3 separate regions of the Homo sapiens genome follow, and all the other regions are linked to region 3. The links come from fine-mapping of genetic effects on gene expression. A gene starts in region 3. Each other region holds a variant in brackets. All regions are shown on one strand. Distances are from middle to middle.

What was found. PIP is the estimated chance that this variant, and not a neighbour inherited with it, causes the effect. A credible set is the group of variants that fine-mapping cannot tell apart.
Region 1: its variant is the best candidate, but not a certain one, in a credible set for the expression of DAPK1 in monocytes after LPS (Quach 2016, PIP 0.64).
Region 2: its variant is the best candidate, but not a certain one, in a credible set for the expression of DAPK1 in whole blood (INTERVAL, PIP 0.62).

Annotation. Positions count from the first base shown.
Region 1 is chr9:87,557,100-87,563,650 of GRCh38, reverse strand. All of the region lies in intron 2 of DAPK1 (death associated protein kinase 1), which reads right to left. Among named protein-coding and RNA genes, the nearest start is that of DAPK1-IT1, 6.9 kb to the right of the region's middle. RefSeq lists a cis regulatory region at 1,585 and enhancers at 1,501-1,670, 3,723-3,892. The variant G/A (reference allele first, on the strand shown) is at 3,173.
Region 2 is chr9:87,428,253-87,434,803 of GRCh38, reverse strand. No RefSeq gene overlaps it. Among named protein-coding and RNA genes, the nearest start is that of DAPK1, 66 kb to the left of the region's middle. The variant C/G (reference allele first, on the strand shown) is at 3,443.
Region 3 is chr9:87,495,126-87,501,676 of GRCh38, reverse strand. It overlaps DAPK1 (death associated protein kinase 1), which reads right to left and starts at 3,810. Exons shown (of 26, transcript NM_004938.4): 1 at 3,570-3,810; 2 at 2,538-2,707. The coding sequence starts at 2,599. RefSeq lists silencers at 2,852-2,961, 3,172-3,361, 3,732-4,081, 4,102-4,161 and an enhancer at 2,704-3,461.

The DNA.
Region 1 (6,551 bases), 62 kb before region 3:
ACTTCACATGGCCTCTTATCCTCCAGGAGGCTTGACAGAGCATCTTTACATAAAAGCAAAGTGTCCCACAAGAGCAAGGTCTAACCTTGGACATCACACATGTCTCTCTGCAAGACTCTGCTGGGCAGAGCAAGCCACAAGGCCAGCCCCAATTCAGGGAATACGGGGAGTCAAGCCAAGATGCAACAGGGAGGCACAGTTCTCTGAGACCATGAACACTACAACCCATCCCAGAGTGGAAATAAATAGTGTTAGTGCAGGTGTTCACACTGTATCTTTCAAATGGGAGTGTGAACCACTTAAATTCAAAAGCATTCAAGGAGCTTAAAAATCATATTCATCTTTGTGCCCTCAATTGCTACTCCCATATTCTTCCTCATACAGTATGTGTTTAATAAATTTGTGTGGATTGGTTGACTAAATTCTGACAAATGCATGTACTTATAAACTTAGAAATTGGAGTTTACCAGGAAAGAATGCCGGAAGGTACAGTTAATAAAGAACAAAAAGTCTCTTTTGCTTACAAAATGCTTCCAGACAACAGAATAGAAACATGAGCATTTCACAAAGAGGGGCCCAAGATCTGCCCCTGAAATTCACCAGTACCAAATCTCTAGGCGGATCATCACCCTCCTTCCATTGTCCAACCTTCACTCCAAATCACATCATTTGTCATGAAGAAAGTAAAAAAGTTTAAGAGGTCAGCACTTGTTTGAGGTTCTATAAAAAAGCTGAGCAAGTCATCATGCCTGGGAAGAATCCTCTTTAAATCATTCCTTAAGTTTAATATAAAGCAAATTGTCTTTGCTCTGCAATAGCAGCAGACTTTTGCTTCAATCTGTCTTCCAAATTTGGGCACCTGACATGCTATTATTTGATGAATTACACTTGGCAAGGTTTATTTATTTCCTTCTGGACAGTGTGCTTTAAATTAAGCAAAACAGTATGTCAGGTGGTTACATGGACAATCTCAACTTCTTTCAGGTGTAAATAATGTAGAGCCTTTGAGATAGCAAATGACTCAATTCCTAATACTCTTTTCTATAAAAATATTATAGAATTCTCTATTTAAATAACTACTGTGGCAGTGACAGTCATCAAATATTTCAGGGTCCTCTCCTTTCAGCATGAGGTAGGAGGACACACCCATGCTTTCACATTGAGTGTGGCCATGTGACTTCTGGCCAATGAAAGTGGGCTCAACTCCTCCTGTTGGTTCCCGACGAAAGCCTCAAGACCCAGTCCTTAATTTGTGACAGCCTCTTCCTCACCAATGTGATTGCAACTTTCCACACAGTGGAGGCTTCATTACCTTCAGTCCTGGAGTTACGACACAGGAGGACAAGGCTCCAACTAACTCACGTTCGCTATTGGGGTTGTTTGTTACAGTGGCATGACTTTGCCCATCCTAACTCAGTATAACTATGATGAACATATAGCTCAACTGCTGTGTCTTCGTTCCATCACCTGAACCCCAAGAAGGTAAACACTGAAGACCACCAGGTAGATACAGAACTGCAGGAGGCCTGCCCTGCACAACCCCCTTCCCTCTCCCCATGAGAATCCCCACATTACTCAGGGCAGCGATGCATCTCTTCTCCATGCTCTGGGGTGGAGTGAGGGTCCCTGTGGCCCAGTCTGGATGATGAGAAGTGTGCAGAGCCCCTTGCAGGCAGCTCACAGGGATGCCCATTCAGGGGGCCAGTAAAGCTGGAGTGCACCCCCTTTTGCTTCCCTTCCCTTCTCCTTGCTTGAACCCTGGGCATGGTGGATGCAGCTCTGGTTGACACCCTAAGGAGGGGGGCAGAACCCAGGGAGCCTGGGTCTCCAATGGCACTGAGGAGCTGCCAGATAAGCACTGTCCACACACAGCCCCACTTCTGGATGAGAAGAAAATGAACCTTTAACTTAAGTAAACTGCTGTCTAAGGGGCTTCCATTTCTAGCACCCAAATGCAATGCCTATCAAACTTCCATGGAGCAGGGGAATCCCCCAGGGCAGGTCTGGGGAATTTCTTTATTCAATGGGAAGTTAATGACCCAGAGAAATAAAAAATCAATGAAAGGTTTCATTAGAATAGAAATTCACTCTGGCTAACATATTTGGTGTATTTTTTTTTTCTTTTGAGACGGAGTCTCGCTCTGTCGCCCAGGCTGGAGTGCAGTGGTGCCATCTCGGCTCACTGTAAGCTCCGCCTCCCGGGTTCACGCCATTCTCCTGCCTCAGCCTCCCGAGTAGCTGGGACCACAGGCGCCCGCCACAACGCCCGGCTAATTTTTTGTATTTTTAGGAGAGACGAGGTTTCACCGTGTTAGCCAGGCTGGTCTCGATCTCCTGACCTCGTGATCCGCCCGCCTTGGCCTCCCAAAGTGCTGGGATTACAAGCGTGAGCCACTACGCCCGGCCACATATTTGGTGTATTTTGTAGCAATGATTGGGGAGGGCATAAAGGCTCAACTCTTGCTGCCCAAAAGATAGGAAATAAGCACAAACGGCTCCTCATCTAATATATTATTGGTTCCGCTATTTTAATTTCATATTTTATTTTGGGGAAAATGAAGGGAAAGGACAAAAAAGTAAAAGACAAGGGCACTCAAATGTCCACTGATGGATGAATGACTACATGACATGAGATTTATACACATAATGGAATAGAATGCAGCCTTTAAAAAGGAAGCACATCCTAGCCAGGCGCGGTGGCTCACACTGGTAATCCCAACACTTTGTGAGGCCGAGGTGGGTGGATCACCTGAGGTCAGGAGTTCAAGACCAGCCTGGCCAACACGGTGAAACTCCGTCTCTACTAAAAATACAAAAGTTAGCCGGGCGTGGTGGTGGGTGCCTATAATCTTAGCTACTCGGGAGGCTGAGGTAGGAGAATTGCTTGATCCTATAAGGTGGAGGTTACAGTGAGTGGAGATCATGCCACTGCACTCCAGCCTGGGTGACAGAGCAAGACTGTCTCAAAAAAAAAAAAAAAAAAGTACGTTCTGACACATGCCTCAACGTGGATGAACCTCAAGGACATCATGCTAAGTGAAATAAGCAGGTCACAAAAGCACAAATATTGTGTGATTCTACTCATGTGAGGTATCTAAAGTAGTCCAAATCACAGAAACAGAAAGTAGACTCATATCTGCCAAGGGGTAGGGGAAGGGGGAGTTTGTGTTTA[G/A]TAGGCACGAAATTTCAGTTTTGCAAGATGAGAAAGTTCTGGGGAAGTGTCACGCAACAATGTGATATAGCTGACACAACTCAGTTGCACGCTTTAAAATGTTTAAATGGTAAATGTAATGTTATGTGATTGTAACCACATATTAAAATAAACTTTCAAATAAATTTTAAAGTTCCAAGGGCAGGCTGGGCATGGTGACTCACACCTGTAATCTCAGTACTTTGGGAGGCCAAGGCAGGCAGATCACTTGAGGTCAGGAATTCTAGACCACCCTGGTCAACATGGCGAAACCCCGTCTCTACTAAAAAAAAAATACAAAAATTAGCCAGGCGTGGTGGCATGCACCTGTAATCTCAGCTACTAGGGAGGCTGAGGCAGGAGAATAGCTTGAACCCGGGAGGAGGAGGTTGCAGTGAGCCAAGATCGAGCCTGGGCGACAGAGCAAGACTCCGTCTCAAAAAAAAACAAAAAAAGAAAAAAGGAAAGAAAAAGATTCAAGGGCAGAGGAGGGAAGAGGAGAGAGGAGACTTCATAAACCAAGGTGGGGAGACAAAAGAAGCGGATGGAGGCAGAGGAAGGGCAAGATAGGGGGCATGAAGAATGGGGGCCTTTCTGAGGAGTGGGCACACGAGTCTGGTGACACTGGGTCACTCACTGGGGCAGCAGGCATCAAAGGTCCACACCAGAGTCCTTTCCAACACCCGGGACTATTGTAGACATTCGCCTGCTCACTGGTCTCAGTTCAAAAAGAACCATGCAGCAATTCTTGGAGTTCAGACATTCTCACAGCCTGAGCTGCTTAGTACCTAGGAGGGGCTCAGCAAAGATCTTTCAAATCAATCAATGATCAAACAGTGCTAATCAAGTCCAAGGCGTCCTACATCCTGCTTTTGAGAGCGTCCTGGGAGGGCCCTCAGCTGCAGGGAAAGTCCACCACAGTAGCTACTAGTCACGGTGCTAGTGAAATTTAACTAAAATTAAAGAATATTAAAAATTTACCTTTTTGGAAACACTAGTCCCATTTCACATGCTCAACAGTCACATGTGGCTAGATGTTACCACACTGGGCGGCACAGAACATTCCCATAATTGCAGAAAGGTCTATGCACAGCATTGGTGTAGATGCTACCCTACCCTACACTACCCTGCCCTGCCCTACCCTACCCTAGCCTAGCCTACCCTAGCCTACCCTAGCCTATCCTGTAATAAAAAGAAGCATACCTGGGGCATTAGAAACTCTAGAGTACTAGAGATGACACATTACCTCTACCTTAATTTCTTCATTTGTAAAACAAGGATAATATTTCATCTAACTTATAGGGTTAAGTAGATTAAATTAGATAATACACGTCAAGCACAAAATCCCCGTCTCAGAGTACAGGCTCTACGAATGCCAACTGTCATTTTGTTGGGGAGAAGGAGGAGATAGCTGGTGCATGCATGTGCACACACATGCACCTGTGATTTCTTACAGAGAGAGACCATGACTTACCCTCCCCTCCCCCAGAGTGGGAACAGTTTTCAACAAGTGACTGGAATGGGTGGTACCTCCCTGATGCCCCACTGGGTAGAGGCCCTGTGGGCAGGTTCCAGGCAGTCTGGTTTCTCCTTTCCCACCTGCCTAACAGGAGTCCGCCCACATGGAGCATGGGAATCATGCTTTCTGCACGTGGGAGCCCAAATGGGTAGATGCAGCTCACAGAGCAGGCTCTAACTGAGCCCCCATGTGGCTATAGCAGGCTGTCCAAGGAATCCAATGAAGCAATGAAGGGGTCTGCAGACAGGAACTACCAAGTCAACAAAAACTCCCTCCATCACAGCCCTTCCCTGCAATGACAAGTCACAAACAGCAGAAACCAAGAGACCAGCTAGTATCGAGGAATTGTTCGTTTTCGTCGAAAGGGACGTTGGTGTGCAATGACCACCTTACAGCTTGTGTATCTGTACTCACACGGCTGTGTGTGTGTGCATATGTGTACTTATGTATGTGGAGCATATTATCAAGTGATTCTGAGATCCTGTATTCATGGAAGATTTTTAGTTGCAAAGCTTATTCGACTAGATCCCTTCATTCTTTTTCATCTTGCTTTATTTATTCTGTCCCGTTGATCTGTGGGTATATCCTCAGGGGTGCAATGCAGTCCAGTGGCCTGCTCTTGACAAAAGAGCATGATCCATTTTGGTAAATAGCTCCTGGGATGCTTCAGGGAGAGGTGCTGACAGGCCAAGATGCATACCCACTGTGCAGTAACATGTGAGTCCCTAAGAGAGTCCATGACCACCATGTGAAACCAGACAGACCACAAGCTTCTGGCAGCTCTCAAGGGGCTGGCAAGATGACAGGACTGTGACAAGCTAACTGCCCATTACCACACTGGGCAGGACCTCACAATGCTGCTGATCAAAATTAAAATGAAAGATTTATTATGGCTGAGCAAGTAAAAGAAGGAAAACATCCAAAAGATTCCAAACTGACTTATCCAACAAGAGACACGCCTGGCTAAAGGATTCGGTTTTTGTTTTTTGTTTGTTTGTCTTCAGACGGAGTCTCACTCTGTCACCCAGGCTGGAGTGCAATGTCATCATCTCAGCTCACTGCAACCTCCGCCTCCCAGGTTCAGGTGATTCTCAAGCCTCAGCCTCTCAAGTAGCTGGGACTACAGGTGCATGCCACCACACCGAGCTAATTTATGTAATTTTAGTAAAGACGAGGTTTCACCATGTTGGCCAGGCTGTTCTCGAACTCCTGACCTCAAGTGATCCACCCACCTTGGCCTCCCAAAGTGCTGTGATTATAAGCATAAGCTACCGCGCCCTGCCAAGGATTAGGTATTTTTTAAAATCCAACACATTTTTCTTTTAATGGATCACTTCTCAATGAGTAATGTTTTAACAGGAGGGGGGTTCTGTAAGAGATAGAAAAAAAATCTAATGGCTTTGTCCCAAGATCATTTGTCAATAAAAGCTACTGACCATTTAATATTATTTTAAATTCATAATTCCTTAATCGGCATGGTTTTAGAGCTCACAAAAGATGTTTTGAATCACAGGAAGAAAGCTGTATTTTCTTCATGAGATTAATAATCTAATTTGGAAGGACGAGGAAGGCAGTGGGTGAAACGTAGAAAGAACACGACAGGAAGGTACAGGACAAAGGGTCTCCCCTGACAGGGCCATGGTGGGAAATGAAGATGTGGGTTTCCAGACTCTTCTCAGATGGATCTGAGCATTCCTCATGGGGCTGCCTGGATGGATGTGTGGCTGCCAGGTAACACTTGCTTTGAACAAAGGTTCTGAGCCCAGAGGTTTGAAAACCACTGGCCTTACAATGCCAGACACTGAGCTTCGAGGATGTTGAGGAAGAGTTGCTCCTCCCTTC
Region 2 (6,551 bases), 67 kb after region 3:
TATTTCTTTTCACCTGACAGGGTCAGCAGTAAACATTTGCCATCTTCCCTCTAACTCTGTGTCACAGTCTAGTCCATAAAGAATGGAACGAAATCATCAATCTACCGTATTATACCACTAATGCCTGCACTGACATTATGCTGATAAGCCCTGGAGAATAAGCAGTAGTAGGTTCTCCAGTTGTTCTATTAAGACACACAAATAAAGGATGTTGCAAAATAACCTATGTAAAGATTCTGGAGCTCCAGTGGTTTGATGATTATTAAGTTATTATCTTTTTCAATAGGAAACACATGTTGCTGAACACTGTGTTTCTTACTACTAAAAAAAGAGGTGTGGCGCATCGTGAAGCTTCTTCACCATGGGTGTCCTATTTGGACCAATTTACCAAGTGAATCCCAAAGTTGTTGGCAGCTTTGAATGGAGCCCAGAATAAGATACGACTCTCCGTTGGGCTTGATTCTACTTTTGTCTTTTGGCTCAGAATATTCAATAGTTCCTGGAGTACCTGGAGTGTATATGAAGCTTGGCAAGTCCAGACAGGCAAATTACAACAGAGACCTTAAATATTATAGACCAATGTTATGTTCTCTTAAACAAGTAACTATTCTCCTTTAAGAAACAGCTCCTGACTTGCTACTGGGATTTACTTAAATGAATGATCATGAACTGGATACTGTCTGATCCATTCAGCCATGAAGTCAGGCCTTCAGTCATCAAGCATAAGAAGTAGTTATAGGATTAGGTCTAAGCCAGCCCTGATACAAATAGTGTTTGCATGACTACATGGTTCACACTCCCCATATACCTTCTCCTGCCACACATTTTACTTTTCTTTAGTCTGCACTTGTGACTGTATGAATGGCTCCCTATGACGAAAGATTTTCTAGAAACCCAACTTGATCCTATTCACAGATGTTTTGGCTTGACATGCCAGCTTCCACCAGAAGTGAGCAATTAAAGAATTTCAACCTGAGACTAGTGGGAAAAACTTTGAATAGTATATCTCTGTCTACTTGGCCTGGAAGAGCAGATTGAAGAAAAAGATTCTATTCCAATTTCTGGACAGTGGTTCTGGCCAGATGAGCAGGGTTTCAGAAAGAAAAAGATCTGAAGATTTGGACAAGGAGATTTGGAGAGGGCATGACCTTTGCAGAATGGGCTCATAGTGTGAGAATCTTTATGTCTCACTTGAATGGTGAGGGAGAACTTGTCTGGCAGTGCCCTGACCTTCACTGGGAGTTGGAGAAAAAGTACCCTCACTTGGGAGGGCCATAGGAGAGCATTAATCTCAGGGAAAGGCGTGAAGGTGGAGGCAATAATGAGTGGAGTCTTTGTGGACCAGGAGCTGCCAAAAGTGTTGGGAGGAAGGAGAAGAGCAAGGTTTTACATTGTTGAAGCACAATACAGTGTGGTGCTAACAGTGAGGGGAGACTCCAGGTTCAACACGGGACTTTGGGTTTTGATTGAGGCTGATCGAGAGGGAAGACATGGTGGATTTATTTGTCTGAGGGAGTTCTGAATCACAGAAGTGTACCAGAGAAGGTTTTATTTAATAACTAGGACTCCAACTGGGCAGGGAACTCTGGCCTCTAGAGAAGGACTCAGCAATGGACAGCCAAGGATCCAGGGAGGGACTTCAGTCTTGGGGTGGACCCCCTCTCCTCCCCTCTCCTCCCCCTCCTCCCCTCCCTTCCCCTCCCCTCCCCTCCTTTCTTTCCTTCCTTCATTTCTTTCTTCCTTTCTTTCCCCTTCTTTCTTTCTCTTTCTTTGCCTTCTCCCTCCTTCCTTCCTTCCTTCCTTCCTTCCTTCCTTCCTTCCTTCCTTCCTTCCTTCCTTCCTTCCAACAGGGTCTCACTCTGTTGCCCAGGCCGGAGTGCAGTGGTGTGACTATGGCTCACTGCAGCCTCTACCTCCTGGACTCAGGTAATCCTCCTACCTCAGCCTCCCAAGTAACTTGGACTGCAGGTGTATGCCGCCATGTCTGGCTAATTTTTGTGTTTTTTTGTAGAGAAAAACATGGTAAAACATGGTGGGCAGATGACTTGAGCCCCAGCTGGTCTTGAACTCCTGGGCTCAAGCCATCTGCCTGCTCTGACCTCCCAAAGTGTTGGGACTACAGGTGTGAGTCACGTGCCTGGCCCATTTTCTTCTTCCTTTTTGTTTTGTTTTGTTTTGTTTTGTTTTGAGATGGAGTCTTGTTCTGTGGCCCAGGCACAATTGTGCAGTGGCACAATCTTGGCTCGCTGCAAACTCCGCCTTCTGGATTCAAGCAATTCTCATGCCTCAGCATCCCGAGTAGCTGGGATTACAGGCATGCACCACCATGCCTGGCTAATTTTTCTATTTTCAGTGAGACTCTGTCTCAAAAATAAATAAATGAATACATAAATAAAATAAAATAAAAACATATGGCAGGCAATTTAGTGTATTAGAAAGATTATGACCCAGAGACCTGAGGTATAATCCTGGTTCTGCTATTAGCGAGTTAAACAGCTTGAAGTCACCTTTCTCTAAGGCCCTTGCTTTCTTCATCTGTGAGGGAATTGATAATTTCTGTGCAGTGTATCTTTAGCCTAGACAACAATGTAAAGTATATTTCCTGGAGCCATACAATGTGGAGGCCGTGCAGTGGCCAACTTCCTGCAATAGTGAAGCCCAGTGAGAACTGTGACTTTCTCAGCTTGGAATCAATGCAATCTGATCACCCTTGCCACAGAAGGTGTAATCCATCAGTCCATGGTGTGTGCTCGAAATCAGTGATGAAATGTCCACTGGGGAATTAGCCGGCCCTGCTGTAATGAGTCTTATGCATGCAAGATTGTAGTATTTGTCAAGTGGGAAGCCACAAATATAAATCTAAAAGGGAAGCAGAATGCTTACACATCTTCTGAAGTTCTAATCTCTAGAGGGGTTAGCCAATCAGGCTGACCCCTGGGTCCTGGACTTTAAGGACCCCCACAGATACTTTCTGGTAGGTTACAGAAACATCAAAGTAGGTAGTGGGGAAACACTGGGGCTAGCTGGTGCTGAGGAAAACAAGGCTCTCGTATCTACACATGTGAATTAACTACTAGGGATGGTTGCCTAGCAACATTATTCCCCTCCCCCTTCACACCATCTTTAGCTTGCTTATTGACTTCTTGTGACATCTCCACTTCTCTTCTCTTTTGATATTAGCCTGGTGTTTATTATGAATCAGATTTCAGTTAGTTACAGTGTGTTAAGAATGGTTTGTAGCATAAATGGGTAGAGAACAGATTGATTTTCTGGTAGCATTTGAAAAATATACTGGCCAGGCATCTCTTTAAAAAGTCAATGGCTCACTTTTAGCCATGTAACAAAAGTAGATATTTTGACAGAAAACCAAACACCGCATGTTCTCTCTTATAAGTGGGAGCTGAATGAGAAGACACACGGACATATAGTGGGGAACAACACA[C/G]GCTGGGGCCTCTCGGGGATGGAGTGAGGAGAGGGAGAGCATCAGGAAGAATAGCTAATGGATGCTGGGCTTAACATCTAGGTGATGGGATGACCTGTGCAGCAAACCACCATGGCACACGTTTACCTATGTAACAGACCTGCACATCCTGCACATGTACCCTGGAGCTTGAAGGAAAAGTTGAAGAACTAAAAAGAATGAATGAATGAATGGAAGGAAGGTAGGGATAAATATTATTTTAAACAAACAAATAAAGAGATACTTTAAAATCCTGCCCCCTTATGAAGGTCCTATCCCATGCAATACTCTTCTGCTATCATACTTATAGCTAATGGTTAGGTGGATGTTTCTGGTTCTGTAGGGACCTAGCAATCTGTTGCAGGTAGACTTTAAGATCAGGTTGAATACAACTTTATTTGGTAAAATACTTAACAGCAGGGTTGTTAAATATTTTCTCCAGAAAAAGCAAAAACCAACCCCTAATTTAACACTTTTTTTTTTTTAAAGAGATGGATTATTGCTATGTTGCCCAGTCTGGTCTCAAACTTTTGGGCTCAAGTGATTCTCCCACCTCAGCCTCCCAAGTAGTTGGGACTACAGGCCATGCCACCACCACTGGTTCCTAACTTATAGAATTTGCCAATATCTGTGGTGCAAATACTCTCATGATGGCCAGTTTCAAGCTACCAATGTACTGTCCCTGAATGCAGAGTTGGGAAAAGATGTACACTGTCTGTCTTCATGAATTGGTATCTATCACAACCCTGAAATAATTCTAAAGCTTTCTGTTTAAAGCAGGAGAATTTCATATGTCTGTCAGTAATCCTGCAAACTCCATATCCCAAGAGGATTTAATTCAAAGGGTGAAGTGTTTAGAAAATAAAACAAGGCCGGGCGTGGTGGCTCATGCCTGTAATCCCAGCACTTTGGGAAGCCAAGGTGGGCGGATCACCTGAGGTCGAGAGTTAGAGACCAGCCTGACCAACATGGAGAAACTCTGTCTCTACTAAAAAAAATATATGTATATATATATATATATATATATATATATATATATATATATATATATATATATTTTTGTGTATATATATATATATATATATATACACACACACACACACAAAATTAGCCGGGCACGTGGCACATGCCTATAATCCCAGTACTTTGGGAGGCCGAAGTGGTTGGATCACCTGAGGTCAGGAGTTCGAGACCAGCCTGGTCAACATGGCAAAACCCTGTCTCTACTAAAAATACACAAATTAGCTGAGCATGGTGGCACATGCCTGTAATTCCAGCTACTTGGGAGGCTGAGGCAGGAGAATATCTTGAACCTGGAAAGTGGAGGTTGCAGTGAGCTGAGATTGCGCTACTGCACTCCAGCCTGGGCAACAAGAGTGAAACTCCATCTCAAAAAAAACACCAAAAAAAACAAAAAAACAAAACCCGAGTAAGTTCCATTTCACCAACTCACAGATATGATTAGCCTGAGTTTCCAGAAAAACAAGGAATGAAGGAGAGACTGCAATCCTGTACAAAGTGCCTAGAACAAAACAAGCACCAAATTATTCCTTGCAAAATGTCAGCCATATTTAAAACTGGCTCTTCTTTAGTTAAACATTAAAACTGAGTTTATTTAAATCACTTCTTAAAACTTAGTTTCATCCTAATCAACTCTGTTTATTCTTTTTGTATTTTTTAAATTTTCTTTGAGAGACAGGGTCTTGCTCTGTCACCCAGGCCAGATTGCAGTGCTGCAATCGTACAATCATAGCTCACTGTAGCCTTGAACTCCTGAGCTCAAGTGATCCTCCTGCCTCAGCCCACACACCCAGTCTATCTTCATTCAATCTGATGAATGGTGAAATGGTTACGTTTTCAAACACATTTTAAAACAATTACATAACCTATAAAATAACAAATATTCATCAGATAGTACCTAAAATCACTTTGCATACCATCTGTGGCATCTGTACAGGGATGTGTACCATGCTTTGTGAAACAATGCACCAAGTACGTGTTGGACATTATTATTAATATTTATCTTTGGAGGCTGAGTATTCAAAGGCTCCCTCCAATAATGCAGGTGGTAAATTCTCAGTACTATATTTAGATAAATCATCAGGAAACTTGACTCCCAATATCCTAAAAATCCTTTAGGAAAAGTCTGTCTGGCCTTTCTTTAAAGGTCACTGCTGCTAGGCAACACCTTTCTTCTGGGATGTGGACCACATTTCTTAGATTTTATTAAAGCACTTGTCTTGTCATGGGTGGAGGTGGGGGAACACATTCTGCTTCTATCTAGCATTTCAGTAGAGTCCTAAGCTCAGAGAGGACAACAAGATTCAGTTCAGAAGAGGTCACACATTTCCTCCTTCGTTTTGCACATCTGTGGGTGTTGTGTGCTATAGGCAGTGTGCAGTGGATTGGAAAATAAGGACCTCTGTGTTTCCACCTTTGAGCTGCTACCTACTCCCTGGGTAATCACTGGCCAGCTTCCCAACCGTAGGTCAGTCTCCTCTTGTCAAACCAGTTAGAGCAGGAGGCTGTCTCAACTGTGGGGAAGATCTGATTTCGGAAATGGAAGCTATTCTGCCCCATTCTCCCTCCTGAGCTGATCAATGGCAATTATTCACAACAATGACACATGGTGGGTCATTTTCTTTTAATTTATTGATTTTTAACCATAATGGAGAGAACTTCCCTGTTGCAAATCTGGAAGAGATGTTCTACGCTTCAGAATTGTCCATTTTTCTCCTTGTTTTAAAGGGGACTACAGCATTCCAACCCAAATCTAAATCAAAACCTAATTTCTTCAGGTGGTTAATTGAATCAAAAGAAGAGTTGTTTCTAATTACCAGCTGTGTCCTGATTGCAAGGTAATTTGTATTCATCCATGACTAGCAAATTCATAATGCATGAGGCCCTACACAGCCACTTGCCTTAATAGCCCTCATTTTAGAAAGCTGATGTCTTCAAGCCAAAGGATGCTTAACGCAATGTTTAGTCACGTTGAAGAGCCTTGATTGACTATTCCTGAAGTAAGCTTGTAGAAAAGGAAGTAGTTTCCTAATCCATCTCAGCTTCTCCTCCAATCCACTCCAGCTCCTTT
Region 3 (6,551 bases):
TCTTCAAAAACCCATCTTTCCTCCTGGCTATGTACTTTGTCTCACTACATTTATAAGGTAAGTGAATCGTTATTATTTAGATGACTGCTAAAGATATATAAGTAAAGTCTTTTTTTTCTTTCTTTTTTTTTTGAGACAGAGTCTCGCTGTATCACCCAGGCTGGAGGGCAGTGGCGCGATCTCCATTCACTGCAACCTCCGCCTCCCAGGTTCAGGCGATTCTCATGCCTCAGCCTCCCAAATAGCTGGGACTACAGGCGCGCGCCACTGCGCCTGGCCAATTAAAGTCTTAAATCTTAGATAATTTTTTTTGTATTTTTAGTAGAGACAGGGTTTCACTATGTTAGCCAGGCTGGTCTTGAACTCCTGACCTCGTGATTTGCCTACCTCAGCCTCCCAAAAGTGCTGGGATTACAGGTGTGAGCCACCTCGCCTGGCCAAGTAAAGTCTTAAATCTTAGATACTGGTCTACTAGTAATTCACTGCTTAGAATGACCTTGCATTTGTGCCACATATCTGCCCATTTCCATTTTCCTGCCACCAAACTCCTGCCTCCACTCCCAATCTTCCCTCAGTGACACGTGATGTCATATAAGCAGCATCTTCCTACATGTCCATTTTACATTAGGACTTGTTTTCAGGAAGTGGCTACATCCAAGGCAGACATAAAATCAGGACTTGAAAAATTTTCCAAAAAACAATCATTCACTCATTTTTTGGCAAAAACAATAGCAGTTATACAAGATAGATGAGTCTGTACATTTCATTTTTAAAAACTTCAGACTTCCAGTTTTTCAGAGCATTTCTTTAAAATTCCTAGGTCACACAAATTATTTAATAAACAATTTGTCAATTTGCCTTGCACAGTGGGGAGAACGTTATACACAAAAATGTACACTGAGCAAATCAAAGTGCTAGTGACAAATAAGTAAGCCACCTCCCTCCCCTCATCATCACGCCCACGAAATAAAGATCAAAAACTCCCTTCGCCAACCACAGGGAGGCCTCTTTTTCTATTTCTTTCTCATAACACATAATGGTACCAAAAAATCATAATGAAAATAAGGTCAATATACTTAATCCATAATATAATAATCTCAACTAATTTTAGTCATCTCTCTTTCTAACAACACTTAAACGATCAGGCCACACTATGCAAATCAAATTAAAATTTATTTTTTTGCTTTTTTCTTCCAGTCCCAAAGGAAAACTCCAAATACCACTCATCTTGCTGAAAACCACAGTAAAGTTATTTAATTCCAGTTAAACCAAATATTTCACCCACACACTCTTAAACTTTAATCTTAAACATATCCATGAAATGTGATGTTTGAAGAGCTTTCCTTATTTACTCACCAGATCATCAATATACAGAGAGCTCTTCCTAAGCACAGGCCCCCATCTATGTTTTCAGTCGATACTAAATATTTAGAGAAATACTCTGTTACAGTAACTTTTAAAAAAATTCTACACTATCATTTGAATTTTTAAAAAAATTTAGTTAAGCTTAGTTTCCATAATTCTCATTAGGCAATCCAGGATGTGGGTGTTTTTTAATTTCCTTTTCATGGAGAAAAAGGAAGCTTTGTATCAGGACATCAGATGTATATGGGAAAATACATATTTCAATGCACATATAAGTAAATACATATTTTGTTTGTTTAAAGATCCTTTTGCCTACTCCACTCACAATGTAAATACACCACAGTCAAATTCCATAAATTCAGTTTTAAATGTATGTATGAAAACTAGGTTTTCTACTAAAGTTGACCAGAGCCCAAAACACTCTGTCTAATACACAGTCAAAGGAAACAGCAATCAGCCCTTAGATGCCCCGAAAGAAACTATTCTTTGTTTACCTAGAAACTGAAAGATTTTACACTGAGAATCACAGCTGCTACAGCAATGGAGGTATGCTCTGAATCCAGATAGCCATATTAGACTCTCATTGATTTGTTAAAAATTTAACATTGTAAATGAAACCAAAGCAACCACCAACACCAACCAGGTAATTAAATTCCTGGTTGGAAGAAGTTTCAAAATCCAAGCCCAATGTCAACATCTGGCAAGTCTCCATTTACCACCTACCAATACTTGCTCAAATTACACTGAAAATTTAGATAGAGGGTAAAGTACTAAGATTTTTAAAACCTATTAATTAGTTTGTACCCTCCGTTTAAATCACACATAAAAGCTAACTCCAATTGCAATTATAATCTTAGTGTTTGTCCTGTTGTCACAGAAGGGCAAGGGCTGACAAGAGTTAGCACGGACAATTAAATCTGATTTTGTCCAGGGGACTGGATCAATATACTGTGCATCATAATCTAGCCCTGAACTGCTGCCTCTCCTCCACCCCCAGGCCCTTGGATCAGGCGGTTTACCGCTGGGTTAGTAACTCTTTTCTCTATGATTTGCGCATCTCCAGAAAGGGCGAGGGAGACGCCTGATTCAAACTGCATTTGTTTACCACCCAATGGCCCCATCGTTATGCATTTCCACAATCCAGGAGGGTACGCTTCTGGTACCCCCTTTACCTGCCAAGTTCCTCGCCGGTGTCGTAGTAATCATCCACGTTTTCCTGCCTGAACACGGTCATGATAAACTGTCACGCCTCACCAAAGCCCAGGGCACTTCAGCTCCGCTTCCCAGACCATCACCACCGCTCCTGCGCCTCCGTAGCCCCCTCATGCATCAGTCTCCAGTCCTTTTGAAGAAAAAAAAAAGGCAATAATAATAGTAAAATGGCAACCCCAAAAGGAAGTAGACCTCCCCGGCGCTAAGACCCCGCTCGCTGAAGACCGGGTCTCCGGAGCTGCCCCTCCTCGCGGGGTGGAGAGGAGCACCCTTTGTTAAAGCTGGGCGGCCAGGGACGCCCCCGACCCCTCAGCCCCGCGCGCGCGTGGGGCCGGGCACCACGGCACCCCGAGGTCGGCGTCCCCAAACGCTGGGCGGTCTGTTGGGATCAGAACCGGCTCCGGAAGTGACTGGCCTCCCCGCCTCCCCTTTCTCTGCACACATGCCCACCCAGCTTTCCCACCTCCAGGGACGCCGCGGAAGAATGAAGCCCTCGCCCAGACGGTACGCGCCTCACTGGGAGCAATCTCTCTCCAGCCTGCGGCAACGGTGGCACCCCCGCGCCACCTCTCGGCTCCCGCGCCTCTCCTAACACCGTGGCCACCCTCTCCCCTTCCCCGAGCGAGGCAGTCCCCAGAGCCACATTCCTGGCGACTCCCTCTCCGTTACCCGGCCGACCCGGCGTGCGGCCGCCCGGGGGAGCAAGGGAGGGAAGGGAGCGGCCCACCGAGGCGCAGCAGTTCGCTCCAGATCCTCGCGCCCCGACACAAAGCGCCTGGTCGGGCCGGCGCCACCTGTTCTCACCCGGCCCGCGGGGCTGGGGAAGCCTCCCGGCTGCGATCGCACTTCTCCCCGAAGCCAAGTTTCCCTCCGCCTTGGCCTTCCCAGTTGCTCGAGGCACTGCCCGGACAAACCCCACCGCGCCCTGGCTGGGAAAGCAAAAGCTGGCGCCGGGGGTCGGGGGGACCGGGGAGCCGCGCCTGGCTACTCACCCGGGCGCCTGGGAGCTCCCCCGGTCCCTCCGGAGCGCTGTCGGAGGCCGACCATAGGCGCCAGCGCCGGAGACTAGCCGGGGCGGCGGCGGGAACACAGCTAGGGAGTGAGTGGGGGGCGCAGATCCCTCCCAGGCGCCGGCCCCAGACCCTGCCGCTGCGAGTTGCCGAGTCCCCTCCGCGGAGGGAACAAAGTCCCCGGCGTTGGCTCGGTCCGGCTGTCCTCCTCACACTCCGAAGCAGCCTCTCGGCTCCTTGCCGCCTTTTGGGCGGAGGGCGGCCGGCAGGCGGCCAATGGGGACCCTGCAAGCGGGCTGGCGGCGCGGCCCACCCACCTCCGAGCTGCCCTGCCAGGCCGGCGCTGCGGGTTCTGCGCGGCGCTCGCTGCTCCTCCCAGCTCCGCGCTCCGGGCTCGCTGGCGCGCTCTACCGCGCACACCCCGCACACACCCACTCGCCCCACACCCACGCCGGCCGGGGAGCCAGTGCGTCCGCCCGGAACGCGGGCGCCCCACCTGTGACACATTGCTAAGCTGCCCTCTGACTGGGTTCTAGGGAAACACGGTTCTTCCGTCCCGAGATGTGTACTGGGATCCCAGCTTGTGCCGGGCACGGTGCTTGGTATGGGAAAATCACATAGAACAAAACAGATTTTTTTAAATCCCTGCCTTCCGGAAACCTGCATTCTGGTGGGACAGATAGATAATAAATATGTAAGCTAATTAATAAGGTAATTTTGGAGGATCAGTCCTACGTTTACCACGAAACAGGTTAATGGAATAGAGAATGGCAGGAAGGGAGCGTACCTCATTAGACTGGGTTCCTCTGCCGGACTGGTGTTGGAGCCGAGGCTTGAAGGCAAGAAGGTTTGCAATCTGAAGAAAGGGTTGAGGTCTCCGAGACCCAAAGAAGCAACAGAGACGCAGAGTTTATTTGCGCTATCCCATATGCTATTGGCTATTGTTGAGCTGAAATGTAGCTAGTCCCAAATTAATTGTGCTGTAAGTGTAAAATACACATTAGAGTCCAAGACAGTATGGATATGAGAATGAAAAATATCTCATGAATATTTTTATATTCATTACACTTTCAAATGATAGTATTTTGGATACGTTGGGTTAAACAAAATATATTATTAAAATTAATTTCACCTGTTTACTTTCTTTTTTTTGAGACGGAGTCTCACTCTGTCGCCAGGCTGGAGTGTAGTGGAGCGTGGCAACCTCCACCTCCAGGGTTCAAGTGATTCTCCTGCCTCGGCCTCCCCAGTAGCTAGGACTACAGTCGCGCGTCACCATGCCCAGCTAATTTTTGTATTTTTAGTAGAGACGGGGTTTCACCGTGTCGACCAGGATGGTCTCCATCTCTTGACCTCGTGATCCGCCCGCCTGGGCCTCCCAAAGTGCTGGGATTACAGGCGTGAGCCACCGCGCCCGGCCTCACCTGTTTACTTTTTAAAAGGTGGCCACTAGAAAATATAACAGTACCTATGTTGCTTGCATGAGATTTCTGAGGACTGTGCTGGTCTACACAAAGATCCCATATCCACTGGAGACCTCTATCCACTTTCTCTACTTCCCACCCCTTGCTCCCACCTAATGTTTGGGTGGAGACGAAGAAGGGTTGATTCCCCACATCCCACTGCTGGAGAACCCCAAACGGTGAAAAGCTCCTAAAGGGAAATCTATTTTACTGCCTAGAATGATGAAAACTGACAGATGAAGAGATTTCCGATCCATACCGTTGTTCAAATCCCCAGGCTTTCTAAACTGAGTTGGTTCAAATCTCTGTGGTTCAACAGAAATTTTCAACTGTGAAGATTTTGGCCTCTTGAAAACAAGGCAAAACAAAACAAAAGAATACCCCTCAGGCCTTATGTCAAATCCTAGTCTTTTTTTTTTTTTTGAGACGGGTTTTCGCTCTTGTGGCCCAGACTGGAGTGCAGTTGTGAAATCTTGGCTCACTGCAAACTCCGCCTCCGCCTCCCGGGTTCAAGCGATTCTCCTGCCTCAGGCTACCCAGTAGCTGGGATTACAGGCATGTGACTATGCCCGGCTAATTTTGTATTTTTAGTAGAGACGTGGTTTCACCATGTTGGTCAGGCTGGTCTTGAACTCCTGACCTCAGGTGATCCTCCCGGCTCGGCCTCCCACAGTGCTGGGATTACAGGCGTGAGCCACTGCGCCCAGCCAAATCCTAGTCTTAAATAACATTGCATTAATGACCCACAGGAAGGGCACACAGGAATCAAGGGGAAGTCCCCAAATTGGGAGATGGTATTAGCTTAAGCAGTGGGCTTGATAATACAAAAGGGTCTTGAGAGGTGAGAAATACAGTCAAAAATAACAACAACAACAAAAAAAGAGTGATTCATCTGGGAAAATGCAAATGAATACATCTGTTGGGAGAAAAAATTTAAAACACAGATGTTTGGGATAAACTTGGAAGGTGTTTATGGATGACTGCCATATGGGTAATATTTATTTTCTGCAAAATAAAAAATATATTGTCCGAGGCAATTAAAAGGACTGAATCTATTTGGCAGCTAGAATGTCTTAACTACCCTAATGGACAATGATGTTCACCGGAGATTATCTGGAGTAGTGAAAAAGAGCATGAAATTTGGAGTCACAAAATTAGATCTAGTATTGGTGGAACCATTTAACAGCTTAATAACCTTGGATGAGTCACTAACCCCCGAGCTTTTTGTGTACACCAATTTAGACAAGCATTTTAGAAAGGGGAAATGTGGTCATTTAAAAACATATTCACAAATTCTTTGACACTCCCCCAATCAAGAGGTGGAGTCTAATTCCCCTCTCAATAAATATTCACCAACCCTATCTGCTTGCTTCTAAGAAAAGGTAGTGGCAGTGGCACAGTGTAATTTATTTCCAAGGTTAGGTCATAAGGCATTAGAGCTTCTGCCTGCTTGCTTCTCTTTCTCTCTCTCTCTCTCTCTCTCTCTTTCCCTCCCTCCCTC